Linked DNA regions of Homo sapiens: region 1 is linked to region 2. Evidence: fine-mapped expression QTL. A gene starts in region 2. The other region holds a variant in brackets. All regions are shown on one strand. Distances are between the middles of the regions. Region 1 has its middle 20 kb from the start of CD70. Region 2 holds the start of CD70 (CD70 molecule).

What was found. PIP is the estimated chance that this variant, and not a neighbour inherited with it, causes the effect.
Region 1: its variant is fine-mapped to the expression of CD70 in esophagus muscle (GTEx, PIP above 0.99). The same link has a PIP of 0.9 or more in gastroesophageal junction, subcutaneous fat and visceral fat.

The regions. Positions count from the first base shown.
Region 1 is chr19:6,606,778-6,615,106 of GRCh38, reverse strand. No RefSeq gene overlaps it. Among named protein-coding and RNA genes, the nearest start is that of CD70, 20 kb to the right of the region's middle. RefSeq lists an enhancer at 5,990-6,099. The variant C/G (reference allele first, on the strand shown) is at 3,782.
Region 2 is chr19:6,586,580-6,594,861 of GRCh38, reverse strand. CD70 (CD70 molecule) reads left to right here and starts at 3,712. Exons shown (of 3, transcript NM_001252.5): 1 at 3,712-4,021; 2 at 4,726-4,759. The coding sequence starts at 3,860. It also overlaps the pseudogene RPL7P50. RefSeq lists enhancers at 1,893-1,992, 2,013-2,472, 3,543-3,942, 4,443-4,812, 5,991-6,070 and 2 more.

The DNA of each region.
Region 1 (8,329 bases), 20 kb before region 2:
ATATCCTTCTATTTATTTAAGCTTTCTTTAATTTTCTCAGTAACATTTTATGGTTTTTGGTGTAGAATTTATATAGTGCTTCCATTAGATGTAGTCCCAGGTATTTGATATATTTTTGTTGAGTTTGTAAATGACATAGTTTTACATGTCTTTTCTAGTTGACAGTGGTATATAAAAATATGATTTATTTTTGTACTTTGGCTTTGCCTCCGGTGTTGTTGCTAAATCAATATATTAAAACTATGTGTAGGCCGGGCGCAGTGGCTTATGCCTGTAATCCCAGCACTTTGGGAGGCTGAGGTGGGCGGATCCCCTGAGGTCAGGAGTTTGAGACCAGCCTGGGCAACATGGTGAAACCTCATCTCTACTAAGAATACAAAAATTAGCCGGGTGTGGTAGTGCATGCCTGTAATCCCAGCTACTCAGGAGGCTGAGGCAACAGAATTGCTTGAACCCGGGAAGAGAAGGTCGTGGTGAGCCAAGATATACCACTGTACTCCAGCCTGGGCAACAGAGCAAAACTCTGTCTCAAAAAAAAAAAAAAAAAAAAAAAACTATGTGTAGGTTGGGCGTGGTGGCCCACACCTGTAATCCAAGTACTTTGGAAGGCTGAGATGGGTGGATCACCTGAGACCAGAAGTTTGAGACCACCCTGGCCTACACGATAAAACCACATCTCTACTAAAACTACAGAAAAAATTAGCTGGGTGTGGTGGTGAGCACCTGTTGTCCCAGCTACTTGGGAGGTTGAGGGAGGAGAATTGCTTGAACCTGGGAGGCAGAGGTTGCAGTGAGCCGAGATTGCACCACTGCACTCCAGCCTGGGCGACACAGTGAGTCCATCTCAAAAGTAAAAATAAAACTATGTGTAGATTATTTAGAATTTTCTTTTTTTTTTTTTTTTGAGACAGAGTCTCACTCTGTCACCCAGGCTGGAGTGCAGTGGTGTGATCTCGGCTCACTGTAAGCTCCACCTCCTGGGTTCACGCCATTCTCCTGCCTCAGCCTCCCAAGTAGCTGAGACTACAGGCGGCTAGTTCTTTGTATTTTTAGTAGAGACAGGGTTTCACCGTGTTAGCCAGGATAGTCTCGATCTCCTGGCCTCATGATCCACCCACCTCGGCCTCCTAAAGTGCTGGGGTTACAGGCGTGAGCCACAATGACTGGCCTAGAATTTTCTACATACATAATGAAGTAATCTCTAAATAATGACTCATTTCTTCCTATTCAATCTTTTTGTCTCATTGCATTGACTAAAACCTCAAGTTCAATATTAGCTAACTCATTTCCTAATTTTAAAAAACGTGCAGCTCACTGCCAGAGTTCATTTAACTTTACATAAACACACTTGTTGAGGCTGAAGCAAATCTGGTTGAGTTTCAATGTGCAAATAAAATATAAAAACTGTTCTTGGAGTTATTTCTGAACAGAATTTGTCTCTAATCCTAATGTAGCAGAAATGTATATGATGTTACATTGGGATTAGAGACAAGAGTATTCTCGGGGCAAATGGGAAATGGGTTAAAAGTAGTAATAACAATCCTGGCCGGGTGTGGCGGCTCACGCCTGTAATCCCAGCATTTTGAGAGGCCAAGGTGAGCAGATCACCTGAGGCCAGGAGTTCGAGACCAGCCTGGTCCAACGTGGCGAAATATCATCTCTACTAAAAATACAAAAATTAGCCAGGCATGGTGGTGGGCACCTGCAATCCCAGCTACCCGGAAGGATGAGGCAGGAGAATTGCTTGAACCCGGGAGTTGGAGGTTGCAGTGGGCCAAGATTATGCCACTGCACTCCAGCCTGGGTGACAAACTGAGACTTCATCTCAAAAAAAAAAAAAAAAAGAGAACATAAATTATTCTACTATAAAGACACACGCACCATATGTTTATTGCAGCACTATTTACAATAGCAAAGTCATGGCACCAACCCAAATGTCCATCGATGATAGACTGGATAAAGAAAATGTGGTACCTATACACCATGGAATACTACGCAGTCATAAAAAGGAAAGAGATCGTGTCCTTTGCAGGGACATGGATGAAGCTGGAAACCATCACCCTCAGCAAACTAACACAGGAACAGAAAACCAAACACCGCATGTTCTCACTCATAAGTGGGAGCTGAACAATGAGAACACATGGACACAGGGAGGGGAACGTCACACATCGGGCCTGTTGGGGGGTGAGAAGTGAGAGGAGGCAACTTAGAGGACGGGTCAGCAGGTGCAGCAAACCGCCATGGCACACATATACTTATGTAACAAACCTGCATGTTCTGCACATGTATCCCGGAACTTAAAGTTAAAAAAAAAAAATTGACCGGGCGCGGTGGCTCACACCTGTAATCCCAGCACTTTGGGAGGCCAAGGCGGGCGGATCACGAGGTCAGGAGATCGAGACCATCCTGGCTAACACGGTGAAACCCCGTCTCTACTAAAAATACAAAAAATTAGCCGGGCGTGGTGGCAGACACCTGTAGTCCCAGCTACTCGGGAAGCTGAGGCAGGAGAATGGCATGAACCTGGGAGACGGAGCTTGCAGTGAGCCGAGATCACGCCACTGCACTCCAGCCTGGGCAAGAGAGCAAGACTCCGTCTCAAAAAAGAAAAAAAATTAGCCAGGTGTGGTGGTACACACCCATAATCCCAGCTACTCAGGAGGCTGAGGCAGGAGAATGGCATGAACCCGGGAGGCAGAGGTTACAGTGAGCTGAGAGCACACCACTGCAGTCCAGCTTGGGCGAAAAGAGCCAGACTCCATCTCAAAAAAAAAAAAAAATCACCAACATATTTTCTATCTCTGGTTTCTCAAAAACTAAGGATTACTTACCTTATTAAATCTTCACATACCCCTACTGAATCCCTGGGTAGATGCGTTCTCTCTGTTTACTAACCAAAATATTAAATATAATCATTGCAACTCTCTCTTATGTCTTCCAGTGGTCAGAAGTGTATCATAGCATTTCATATTTATCTTATCTTTGTAACCTGCATTTTTACCAGTTCAATATAATTTTCACATATTGATTGCTAAAGAGTGAAATGAAGGAATTAGGTTAAAATGTTTTTATTGGAAACTATCATGTCAAGTACCTTTTTTTTTTTTTTTTTTTTTGAGACAGAGCCTCACTCTGTCACCCAGGCTGGAGTGCAGTAGTGCGATCTCGGCTCACTGCAACCTCTGCCTCCCGGTCTCAAGCGATTCTCCCACCTCAGCCTCTCAAGTAGCTGGGACTACGGGAGTGTGCCACCTCACCCAAGGAATTTTTGTATTTTTCTTTTTTGTAGAGACAGGATTTCACCATGTTGCCCAATGTGGTGAAGTACTTTTAATGTGGAAATTTCCAATAGCCATATGAGTTTGGGCATATCTCAGAAAGTCAGCAAACAGTGAGATCAAGCAAAAAGACGGAGTAGAAAGCTCTGGGAGCCCCTCCCTCCAGTGAAATAAACAGTGAACTGAGGGGCAGGAGACACAGAATCAATGATTTCAGAACTAGTCATCCTGTTGCAGCACTTATAATAATGAGAGGAGTGCTTGATGAAAAGAGAGACTGAGACTTTAGAAAGAGAACAGCCTTCACAAACCAGCCCCCACTCCCCATTCCTCCGTCCGAGTGGGGCAATTTGGAGACAGTCCATTTTCCTCAAACAGGTGACCAGTGCCAGAGCAGGCAGTTGAGACCTTGGCCTCCAAAATTTGGGGAATTTGCACTCTACTAGGTCTGGCAATTCCTGAGAAGCCAATAAGATGCTTGTTTTGGCTCTCTTGAGTCCCTT[C/G]GTATCCCTCAGACTTAGAGGTTCGATGCCTTGTAAAATCTTTGTCATGTTACTAACTGACCACAAAATGGAAAAGACACTTCAGTGATCACACCCAAAGGATACACAGTTGCCAAAAAACAGTCGGGAAAAGTCAGAAATGAATAGTTTCAGCCTTCAGTAAGCAGAAATCAGCAATCCATGAAGACTTGGAGCATCGGAGTTCCAGACTTATGAATCATAATACTCAGGATGTCCAGTTGTAATTACAAAGCATAAAGACATAGGAAAGTATAACTCATTTACAATAAACCATGATTTAACATATACTGTTACTAGGGAAGCCCACACATTGAAACTATTAGTCAAAGACATTAAATCAACTGTCTCCAATGTGTTCAGTGAGATGAAGGAAAATATGGACAAAGAACTAAAGCAGATCATGAGAATGATATATGAAAGAAGTGAGAATGTCAATAGAAAGAAATAAATTATTAAAAATTCACAAACAGGAATTCTGGAGCTGAAAGTTACAATAATGGAGGTGATAATTCATTAGACGAATTCAAGAACAGATTTGAGTAGGTAGAAAAAAGATCAACAAACTTGAAGATAAGGCAACCATAAAGTTAGCAAATCCAAGAAGCAGGGGAAAAAAGTGAAGACAAATACACAGAGCCGGCCGGGTGCGGTGGGATGTTAACAATGGGATTGTTTGTGGAGCAGGGGGCTCTAGGGGTGTGTGGGAACTTTTTGTATTTTCTGCTCAATTTTGCTGCGAAACTAAAACTGCTCTAAAAAGACTTTTTTTTTTTTTTTTTTTTTTTGAGACGGAGCTTCACTCTTGTTGCCTAGGCTGGAGTGCAATGGAGCGATCTTGGCTTACCGCAACCTCCACCTCCCAGGTTCAAGCAATTCTCCTGCCTCAGCCTCCCAAGTTGCTGGGATTACAGGCATGAGCCACCACACCCATAAAAGCCTATTTTTTAAAAAGTTTTGACTAGTACCTTTTCCCCATTACACCTCTGTCCCACTCATCCTTTAAAATGTATTTTGACTGTGATATCAGCTGGGGCATGACTTCAGAGGAAAAGGTATTGTATAAAAGGAACTCTGGAGTCAAAATAAAGTTTGAGTTTTGAATTTTGGCTTTGCTTTATTTATTTATTTTTATTTATTTATTTATTTTTCTTTTTGAGACAGAGTCTCACTCTGTCACCTAGGCTGGAGTGCAGTGGCACGATCTCAGCTCACTGCAACCTCCGCCTCCTGGTTTCAAGTGATTCTCATGTCTTGGCCTCCCAAGTAGCTGGGATTACAGGCACCCGCCCCCATGCCTGGCTAATTTTTGTATTTTTAGTAGAGATAGGGTTTCACCATGTTGGCCAGGCTTGTCTCGAACTCCTGACCTCAAGTGATCAGCCTGCCTCAGCCTCCCAAAGTTTTGGGATTACAGGCGTGAGCTACCACGCCTGGCCAGCTTTTACCTTTAATAAGGTACTTAACCTTTTTAAAACCTAAGTTTTCTTATCATTGTTCACTGTGTCCTTTCATATACGTACGTTATGGAAATATCTATGGATTGTTTTTAAAATTCTAGTTGTTGCTGAAAATTCACAAAAGGCATCTCAAGATAATACTACTTATCTCCCAGGGCTGTTGGAATATTAACTGAGACCATTTTGTTGCTGTTGTTTTTGTTTGTTTTTTGAGACCATATTTATTTTTAAAATAAAAACAGAATGCAAGAAAGTTGGCCTGACACAAATGGGAACTCATCAAATGCAATCTCCAAGAGGGTAGGAACTTTGATTTCTGCACTATTGTATTAATACCTTGGAAACAGCAGGAACTCAGAAATATATGTTCAGTAATTTTAAAAAAAAAAAAAAGCTTGGCTAGGCTACTGAATGATCACAGACCACATGGAAAGAAAAAGAGGCTTGATGCCATTACAGGTGGGACTATGGAGTTCTCTCTTGGAGGGGTGACTGTATTTTGCAAGCAGGAAGGAGCATGAGCTGAGTTTCTGTGATCAAATGGGTGGGTTTTGATAGCGATTCGTGTTCTCCACCTAGTATTTTCAGCTTTCTTTCTGACTCTTGCAAGCATGCCACTTCCCTGCACCCACTAAAGTTAAGCAGGGTCACTGACACGCTTTGGTTAGTGAAAAGGGACTGGCAATGATGTGTATCCATCTGTGGTTTTCTACTTTACACTCCTAGCACAAGGGTCATGTCAAGATGAAAACCGTCTAGGCATGAGCCACAGCGCCTGGCTGGAACATCAGTTTTACTGCAAGATTTGGAAGAAACAAATTGAATTGATTACCAAGAGAATGTGCAAGAACTATTAAGTCTTAGGACACATGGCCAAGACCAAAAGTCTCTGGTGATGGGCTGGGGTGGGGCCCCGTCCCACAGCCCTCGGACCAAGTAAGAAGAAAAAGTAGGAGGGGGAGGTGGCTTATGCCTCTAATCCCTGCACTGTGGGATTAGCTGGGTGTGGTGCCTCATGCCTGTAATGTCAGCTACTCAGGAGGCTGAGGCAGGAGAATTGCATGAACCCAGGAGGTGGAGGTTGCAGAGAGCCAAGATTGTGCCACTGCACTCCAGCCTGGGCGACAGAGTGAGACTCCTACTAATAAATAAATAAAAGAAAAACTAAGTTAAAATTTGTAAGGGCATAAAACATAATTTTAATAGGAAGCTATGAGAATTATCTACACTTGCAGATAATTGAATGAGCTGAGTTATCTGATGATTGATTGAATGATCGAATTATAGGTAACTGTGATTTTTCTTTTTTTTTTTTGAGATGGAGTTTTGCTCTTGTCACCCAAACTAGAGTACAGTGGCAAGATCTCGGCTCACTGCAACCTCTGTCTCCCAGATTCAAGCGATTCTCCTGCCCGCCACCACGTCTGGCTAATTTTGGAATTTTTAGTAGAGATATGGTTTCACCATGTTGGCCAGGCTAGTCTCGAACCCCTGACCTCAGGTGATCCTCCCGCCTCGGCCTCCCGAAGTGCTGGGATTACTGGCATGAGCCACTGCGCCTGGCCTTTGCTACTTAATTTTATAAGACATCTACTTTTTCAAATATTTGCTGTTTTTGCTCTCATGATATGAAAATTTTTTTATTGTGAGGGAGCATTTCTATGAAAACAATAGTAGAAATTTGTGCCAATTTTGGTTATTAAAATAATAAAATTGTTGGGTTAGTTTGTTATTCTTAACCAAATGCTCCTACAGATAGCATATTGCACAGATGGTTTGATTGTTTTTTTTTCATCTTAGGTGAATTTTCCTTAATTTTATTCATCAAACTGTATTTACTTGAGATAAATAGACATTGTAGTTACTGTGTGCTCTACAGATCTCTACTTTTTTAAAAATAAAAATTCTCGGCCAGGCGCGGTGGCTCACGCGTGTAATCCCAGCAGTTTGGGAGGCTGAGGTGGGTGGATCAGAAGGTCAGGAGTTCAAGACCAACCTGGCAAAGATGGCAAAACCCCATCTCTACTAAAAACACAAAAAATTAGACAGGCGAGGTGGCGCAAGCCTGTAATCCCAGCTACTCGGGAGGCTGAGGCAGGAGAATCGCTTGAACCTGGGAGGCAGAGGTTGCGGTGAGCCAAGATTGCACCACTGCACTCCAGCCTGGGCAACAGGGCAAGACTCGGTCTCAAAAAAAAAAAAAAATTCTCAGTCAAAACTCTGACCTATTTTATAAAAATTTGGATTGTAAATACTACTTCGACGTAACTTATATGTACATTAATGATTAGTAAGTGGAGTAATTCTATTCTTTAAAGGGGGGAAGTCTATATGAGTGTATTAATTTGTCAAAATGGTACAGTTCAGATTGTACCTTTCAATATGTATACATTTTATCTAAAAAGAAAACCCAAAAAACTAATAAATTGGGGGGTAGGAAATGGGTCAAAGTATAGATGAAGCAAACATGGCATGACTAGTAGCTGTTCAACCTGGGTGACAAGTCTATTATACTATCTTTGTATTCTGTATATATTTTTGTTTTTTGAGATGAAGTCTGGCTCTCGTCACCCAGGCTGGAGTGCAGTGGCATGATCTCAGCTCATTGCAACCTCCGCCTCCCAGGTCCAAGCAATTCTCAAGCCTCAGCCTCCTGAGTAGCTGGGACTGCAATTGCACATGACCACGCCTGGCTAATTTTTGAATTTTTAGTAGAGAGGGAGTTTCACCATGTTGGCCAGGCTGGTCTCGAACTCCTGACCTCAGGTGATCTGCCCGCCTCGGACTCCCAAAGTTCTGGGATTACAGGCGTGAGCCACTGTACCTGGCCTGTATTTTGTGTAGGTTTTTAATGTTTGGTGACAAAACACTTGTTGAAAATGAAAAAAAAAAAATTAGTCGGGCATGGTGCCGTGCACCTGTGGTCCCAGCTATTTGGGGGACTAAATAGGAGGATTACTTGAACCCAGGAAGCAGAAGTTGCATTAAGCCGAGATTGTGCTACGGCTCTGCACCCTGAACAACAGAGTGAGGCCCTGTCTCAACAAAAAAAAAAAAAAAAAAGGAAGAA
Region 2 (8,282 bases):
TGAGATTACAGGTGTGAGCCACTGCGCCCGGCCAAGCAGTTGTATTTATTTTTATGAGTTGGCTGCTCCTGTCTCATTTTGGGATTTTCCTAAGACACCTCGGCCTCCCAAAGTGCTGAGATTACATGTATGAGCCACCCCACCCCATCTCTCTTTCCCCCATCTTTTAGAAGGTATTAGTTATTTCTTAATGATATGAATCTAAACTATTTATATCTTAAGCTGATAAAAAGATCAGCTAAGTAAATATTAAATAAATTAAGGTAGGAGATTGTCTTGAAGGTGCTGTCTACCCGCTTCCCCCAGACCTGGAGTCCTAGGGCTTCCGTGAAGGAAATCCCTTTAGTACTTGGGGATCTCAGGGAGGATATTTTGATTTCTGGATACCTCAAAATTCTGGACCTCTTTGACCACCCTCTTCACCCACCCAGCAAATGCTATAGGCTCAGGCTCTGAAATCTCCCATTTTTATCTCCTTTCAATTTTTTGCTTTTTGTTGGTAATTTTGCTGTTTCAAACAGCCCCCAAATAGTGCTGAAGCCCTGTCTAATGTCCCCCAAGAGCAAGGAGGCCGTGATGAGCCTCACAGAGGAGGAAATCCACGTGTTAGAGAAGCTATCCCCAGGCACGAGTTCTAGCGCTGTTGGCTGTGAGTTTGCTGCTGATGACACTGACTTCTTGATGATTCATAGCCAGAGGCCCTTGGGACCCTAACTGTATGTATATACAGACATATTTTTCTTTCCATTTGAGAGCAGGTAATGTTTATTGAACAGCTTAGAAAAATAATTATAGTACACACCATAGTTCATTCTTCTAACAAGCCTGTTGATCTGGTCCTCCCTGTTGCCAGCATCTCCACCTTCCACGAAATGGGTGGTCTGTTTCTTCATTCTGCCTCATGGAGAAGATACTTTGAAGGACCACAGGAAGTTATGTGCTTCTTTGAAGCGTTTTCCAACAGTATGGACCTCATGAATCACATCCTCCATACAGATGATGCCATATTTTCCAAGAGATCGTGCAAAGCGTTATCTGTCAAAGCAATTCGTTTCTTATTGATTTTGCCATAACCACGCTTGTAGATTAGTTTATTTACTGACTTCAGATTTAGGTACCCGCATGCAATGTATGGCTCTACAATCCTCAGCATGTTAATTGGCCTTCACAAAGGTTCCATTGAAGATTTGACAAAGGCAAAGAAGCTGCAACACATTTCGGACCTTTGGGCTCACACCATCGATACCTCTGATCCTGATGACAAACGCCAGTCTGGATTCTGCAGGTTCATAGAAGTTGCCAGCTTTTCTTGACATCTTTTCCATTCGAATTTCAGTTCTGTACCTCTGCCTATATTCCTTGTGATAGTGCTTCAATTTTTCATAGATAAGCTTCCTCCTTGCCTTTCGAAGCATCTTTTGGGCAAACTTCTTTCTCAGGCGCTTGGTCTTCAGCTCTGTGAAATTCCTTCGCTTTTTCTTAGGGGTTTCTGGCACAGCGGGAACTTCCTTCTTCTTCTCTTCTACACCCTCCATGGTTCCAGCCGGAAAAAGAGGCTGGATCCTCTTTTTAAAAAATATATATATTTTTAAGACAGAGTCTCGCTCTGTCACCCAGGCTGGAGTGCAATGGTGTGATCTCGGCTCACTGCAACCTCTGCCTCCCGGGTTTGAGCGATTCTCCTGCCTCAGCTTCCTGAGTAGCTGGGATTAAAGGTGCCCACCACCACACCCAGCTATTTTTTGAATTTTTAGTAGAGATGGGGTTCCACCATGTTGGCCAGGCTGGTCTCCAACTCTTTTTTTTTTTTTTTTGAGACGGAGTCTCACTCTGTCACCCAGGCTGGAGTTCAGTGGCGTGATCTCGGCTCACTGCAAGCTCCACCTCCCGGGTTCACGCCATTCTCCTGCCTCAGCCTCCTGAGTAGCTGGGACTACAGGCGCCCGCCACCATGCCCGGCTAATTTTTTGTATTTTTAGTAGAGACGGGGGTTTCACCGTGTTAGCCAGGAGGGTCTCAAACTCCTGATATCAAGTGATCCGCCTGCCTCAGCCTCCCAAAGTGCTGGGATTACAGGCGTGAGCCACTGCGCCTGGCTCCTTCTTGGTGTTTCTTGACTTTCATCTGCCTCATTCAGTTTCTGTTTCTGTTTTCACACGGCTCCTTCTCTATGAGCCTCTTTTCTCTCCACCTGAGGGCCCACTCTAATCCAGTATGACCTCATTTAAGCCTAATTATATCTGCAAAAAAAACCCCGTAATTTCAAAATGAGGTCATATTCTGCAGTTCCAGGAGGCCATGAATTCTGGGAGGACACCGTTAACCCACTACAGCCATCGAGAACAGCAGCAGGAGGCTGGATGCGGTGGCTCACACCTGTCATCCCGGCACTTTGGGGGACCTACGCAGCAGGATCGCTTGAGCCCAGATGTTTGAGACCAGCCTGGTAACATAGTAACACCCTATCCTCTACCCCCCCCAAAAAAAAAATTAGCCGGGCATGGTAGCGTGTGCTGGTAGACCCAACTATGCAAAAGGCTGAGATGGGAGGGTCACTGAAGCCCAGGAGTTTGAGGCTGCTGTGAGCTGTGTGGCGCCACTGCATCCAGCCTGGGCAACAGAGCAACACTCTGTCTCTAAAAATATTAATTTAGGCCGGGCGCGGCGGCTCACGCCTGTAATCCCAGCACTTTGGGAGGCCAAGGCGGGCAGATCACGAGGTCAGGAGATGGAGACCATCCTCGCTAACATGGTGAAAACCCATCTCTACTAAAAATACAAAAAGTTAGCCGGGCGTGGTGGCGGGCGCCTGTAGTCCCAGCTACTTGAGAGGCTGAGGCAGGAGAATGGCGTGAACCCGGGAGGCGGAGCTTGCAGTGAGCCGAGATGGCGCCACTGCACTCCAGCCTGGGCGACAGAGCGAGACTCTGTCTCAAAAAAAAAAAAAATAAATAATAAAATAAAATAAAAATAAAAAATAAAAATATTAACTTAATTTAACTTTAAACAAAAAAGCAGGTGGTCTCCAAGAATGCAGGAGATAACTGACCGGGTGCAGTGTCTCATGCCTTTAATCCCAGCACTTTGGAAGGCCAAGGCGGGTGGATCACCCAAGGTCAGGAGTTCAAGTCCAGCCTGGCCAACATGGTGAAACCCCATCTCTACTAAAAATACAAAAAATTAGCCAGGCATGGTGGCGCGCGCATGTTACTCCCAGCTACTCGCGAGGCTCAGACAGGAGAATCGCTTGAACCCAGGAGATCGAGGTTGCGGCGAGCTGAGATGGCGCCACTGCACTCCAGCCTGGGTGACAGAGGGAGACCTCCGTCTCAAAAACAAAACAAATCAAAAAAATGCAGGAGAGGGGTACACGAATATTTGGGGAGCACCCCCAATTCTTGGATGTCTGCTGTATCCCCAGTGCACAGCACAATCTAATCCCTAATAAATGTGCAGTGGAGGTTTGTTGAATAAATGAATGGGCCCCAGAAGAATGAGGTGGAGAGGGGAATAGGAAGATTGAATGTCTCCTGCCTGAAGGTCGGGCGGGGAGGGGTTGGGGGCAGGCAACTCTGAGGCTCACCCGGGGCCACTGCCTGCATCCTGGCAACTGCCTCCACCCACTTTAGGATCTTCAGACTGGCAGCGGTTGGAGGGAATTTCCCCTCGCCAATTGCTCAAGTCCCTCCCCTCGACCGGCCGGACATCCCCAGAGAGGGGCAGGCTGGTCCCCTGACAGGTTGAAGCAAGTAGACGCCCAGGAGCCCCGGGAGGGGGCTGCAGTTTCCTTCCTTCCTTCTCGGCAGCGCTCCGCGCCCCCATCGCCCCTCCTGCGCTAGCGGAGGTGATCGCCGCGGCGATGCCGGAGGAGGGTTCGGGCTGCTCGGTGCGGCGCAGGCCCTATGGGTGCGTCCTGCGGGCTGCTTTGGTCCCATTGGTCGCGGGCTTGGTGATCTGCCTCGTGGTGTGCATCCAGCGCTTCGCACAGGCTCAGCAGCAGCTGCCGCTCGAGTCACTTGGGGTGAGTTGAGATGGAAAAGTTGGGAAGAAAACATAGAGAGGCGCGTGACCGAAAAGACAGAATGAGATGGGTACAAAGAGGCCAGAGAGGAAGATCTGGTAGGGCAGAGACAGAGACCAGAACAGGGAGGCGAGGCGGGGACCAGGCTGCCCGGTGTAGGGGCTACGAGACAGGCAGCCCTGCCAGGAGGTACAGGGAGATCCCGGGATGGGAAAGGTAGGCACACATGGAAATGGAAGATGACTCGGCTCTGGTGTTCCCCCGGCAGGCTGACTCAGAGGCTGCTGGGGGCTTCACAAGGCTGGGCGTGGGGGCTTCCTGGGGCCTCCTAGGACGGGATGGCCCCAGCCACTCGCTCCGGGTGGGGGAGGGGTCCCTTTGGGGACCGCGCCGGGCGCCTTTGCAGCGTAGAGAGTCCGCTGCGCGCGGTGCTCTCGCGCCCAGTGACATCCAGGAAAACGATTCGGGAAACGAAGAAGTTCTTTTGAAGGTCTCGACTTCACGTTCCCCGCTGGTTCAGACCTGCTTCCTCTTTAAGAAGTCTTAAGAGTAAAAAAAAATAAAATGAAATAAAATCACCAGTGCGCGCCGTGGGATGAGAGGTGGAAAGGAGGATGGACAGAGAAAAGAGAGCTCCTGGCACAGGGGACACATAGAACCTCTCTGCTTACGTCCGTGCCCTGTTTTCTGGTCTTTTCTTCCAGTGGGACGTAGCTGAGCTGCAGCTGAATCACACAGGTAACACGGGGGACGTGGAGGGACGGGGAGAAGAAGAGGCACAGAGAGAGAAGGAAGGAGAGGTAGAAAGACAAGTGGGGAGAGACAGAGAGAAAGAGACACAGACAGAGACGGAGGGAGAGAGGGAGGGAGAGATAGGGAGGGAAACGGAGAGGGGGAGACAGAGAGAAGACAGAGAGGGAGGGAGAGGCCCAGAGAAAGGGAGGGAGAGACAGAAAAAAGAACAGAGAGAGGGACAGAGGGGACAGACGGGACAGGAGAAGAAGGGGAAAGAAAGAAACAGGGAGAGACGCAGGGAGAGTGGAAGAGGGAGGGAGGGAGACAGGCGGGGGAGACAGAACGAGAGAGAGGGAGAGAGACGGAGAAAGAGAAAAAAGACAGATAGAGGAAGAGAGAATAAAAACGAGAGAGGCGACCTGGCGTGGTTGCTGGAGCCTGTAATCCCAGCGCTTTCGGAGGGCGCGGCGGGTGGATCACTTGAGCCCAGGAGTTTGAGACCAGCCTGGCCAACATGGTGAAACCCCGTCTCTACTAAAATTACAAAAATTAGCCGGGTGTGGTGGCAGGCACCTGTAATCCCAGCTACTCAGGAGGCCGAGGCAGGAGAATCGCCTGAACCTGGGAGGCAGAAGTTGCAGTGAGCCAAGATAATGGCACTGCTCTCCAGCCTGGGTGACAGAGGGAGATTCTGTCAAATAAATAAATAAAAAGAAGAAAGGAAAAGAAAAAGAAAGAAAGGAAGGAAGGAAAAGAAAGAGAAGAAGGAAGGAAGGAGAGAGGGAGGGAGGTGAGAGAGAGAGAAAGGAAAAAGAAAGAAGAAAGAGAAAAAAAGAAATAAGAGAAAGAAAAGAAAGAAAGCCAGAGAGAGGAAAAGAGAAGGAGAATAACAGAGAGGAAGAGACAGAGACAGAGAGGGGGAAGAAGAAAAACAGGGCGGGGGAGAAAGAGATCATTCCCAAGAGAAAAAGGAAAAGGGAGAGAACGAGAGAGAGAGAGAGGAGAGAGAGAGCGAGCAGGTTTGTGTTTCTGGGCATCCACTACCTTTCTCTCCCTTTCCCTCTCAGTCCTTCACATTCGATCTCCTCCCTTGGAAGAATCAAAGGGGTTTTGTTAGTAAACGAAAACGCTCACAGGAAAGGCTACCCTTCCTCCATTCATGCTACAAGCACTAATTATACATCTGCAGTGGGCAGGCACTGTTCCGGTACTGCAGTCGCGCACAAAACAGACAGAAATCCCTGCCTGGTGAGCTTCCCTTCTACTATCACTCCTACCGAGGAGGAGATGACCAAAAAAATAAAAACGAACATGTGAAAAACAGAGCAATGCCACGTAGAGTAAAACAGGCCAAGAGCAGGTTTTAGAGAAAAAATCAGGCAAGGAGGTGGGTGGGGAATCCGGGCATGCCAGGGTTGGGGATTTTCATTTAAAGTGGAGTCGCGGCGGTCGGGTGGGGGGGTGGTATCTGAGTGGGTGGCATTGGCAAGAAGCCTTGAGGGAGAAGAAATGAACAGTTCTGCTCTAGGTGGAAGTCTCTACCTCCTCCCAGCCTCTCTCGAACGCTTCTTCCTCTTCTGTTTTTCCACGGTTCATCCCCAGAGACTAAAATTACTGCACGCTTGCGTGTTTTGTTCCTTCCATTTTGTAATGGAAGGGACCTTTGTTGCTCTCTCTTCTCCTTGGGTCTCTGACCCCTGATATATCTTCCCCCCCTCCCCGGCCTTTGCCATATTTTTCCTGTAATTTGGTCTTGAGGCCCCTTTCTGGAGAGTGGCTGTCCAGCCCCACATCGATGGGGCACCAGGGGTGGTGGCCACAGGTGTTGACAGTGTCTTTCACAGGACAGCTCTTTCTTCTGGTGGATGATATCATGCCTAAGTGTGTGACAGGGGACCAGGTGTCACTCTTACAGGAAATTTGCAAAGCCTGGTAAACACCCTTGGGGCTCCTGTTTGACCCCGTTCAGTTCCTTCCTAACAAGATAGCCAGTCTCCAGGAGAGCCTTGAGTGAGGAGGAGAGTGAGGCTCAGGTGTGTCAGTCAGATAAGTTGCGGAGACAGGAGACGCTGAGATGAAACACGTGAAATATAGCCGAGGACCTTGGCTCCCGGCTGTGATCCCAGCGCTTTGGGAGGCTGAGGTGGGAGGATCGCTTGAGCCCAGGAGTTCTAGACTATGTTTCTTGGGAAACATAGCAAGACCACCATCTCTAGAACAAAATTTTGAAAATTAGCTGGTCATGGTGGCGCATGCCACCTCCCAGTGACTCGGGAGGCTGAGGTGGGAGATAGCTTGAGCCCCAGAGGCTGAGGCTGCAGTGAGCTATGATTGCACCACTGCACTCCAGCCTGGGTGACAGGACCAGACCCTGTCTCTAAAGAAAATAAAGATCCTAGAGAGAAGAGGGCCAACGGGAAGGTAGGGGAGCTCTCTGAGACACACACTCAACCAGCGGGTGGAAAGCAAGAAAAAAAAAGGGTCCTGGGAGCCAAAGCTTTTATTGGCGTTCAGGGTGTGACCCGAGCAGGCGTCCCTTGGGGAATTCTCTCGTGCACTCTCTTGCGCGCTGTCTCGTGCGCACGCTGTCTCTCTCGTGCTGTCTGTCTCACTCTCTCAGGCACTCTCTCGCTCACTCCCGTGCACTCTCGAGCTCTGTAGCTCTCATCCTCTCTCACACACACACTCTCCCATGCACTCTCTCGAGCTCACTCTCACACTCTGTCTCGTGCACTCTCTCTCAAGCTCTCTCGTCCTCTCTCACACACACACTCTCTCTCTTGCTCTCTCTCTCATGCTGTCTCTCGTACTCTCTCCTGCTCTCTCGTGCTCTCTCTCACTCTCTCGTGCACTCTCCCTCAAGCTCTCTCGTCCTCTCTCTCACACTCTCTCGCTGTCTCATGCTCTCTCTCCCTCATGATCTCTCTCTCTCTCATGCTGTCTCTTGCACTCTCTCCTGCTCTCTCGTGCTCTCTCGCACTCTCTCGTGCACTCTCCCTCAAGCTCTCTCGTCCTCTCACACACTCTCTCGCTCTCTCATGCTCTCTCTCTCATGCTCTCTGTCGCACTCTCTCGTGCACTCTCGTCCTCTCTCACACATACACTCTCTCTCTTGCTCTCTCTCTGCATTCTCTCTCTATATATCTCTCCCTCCCCCTCTATCTTTACCCTTGTCTGTTTCTGTTTTTTTTTTTTTTTTTTTTGTCTCTCTCTCTCCTGGTGTCTCTCTCTCCCTGTCTCTACCCCTTTCCCCTTACCCCTCTCTCCTTCCCTTTAGATCTCTAACCTTCTATCCCCCTCCCTTTTTTTTGAGACAGGGTTTCTGTGACCAAGGCTGGAGTGCAGTGGTGTGATCATAGCTCACTGCAGTCTCAGCCTCCCAGGCTCAAGCGATCCTCCAGCCTCAGCCTCCCAAGAGTAGCCAGGACCAGAGGCGTGCACCACCACACCTGGCTGACTTTTTATTTTTTGTAGAGATGGGGTCTCGCCCTGTTGTCCAGGCTGGTCTTGAACTGCTGACCTCAGG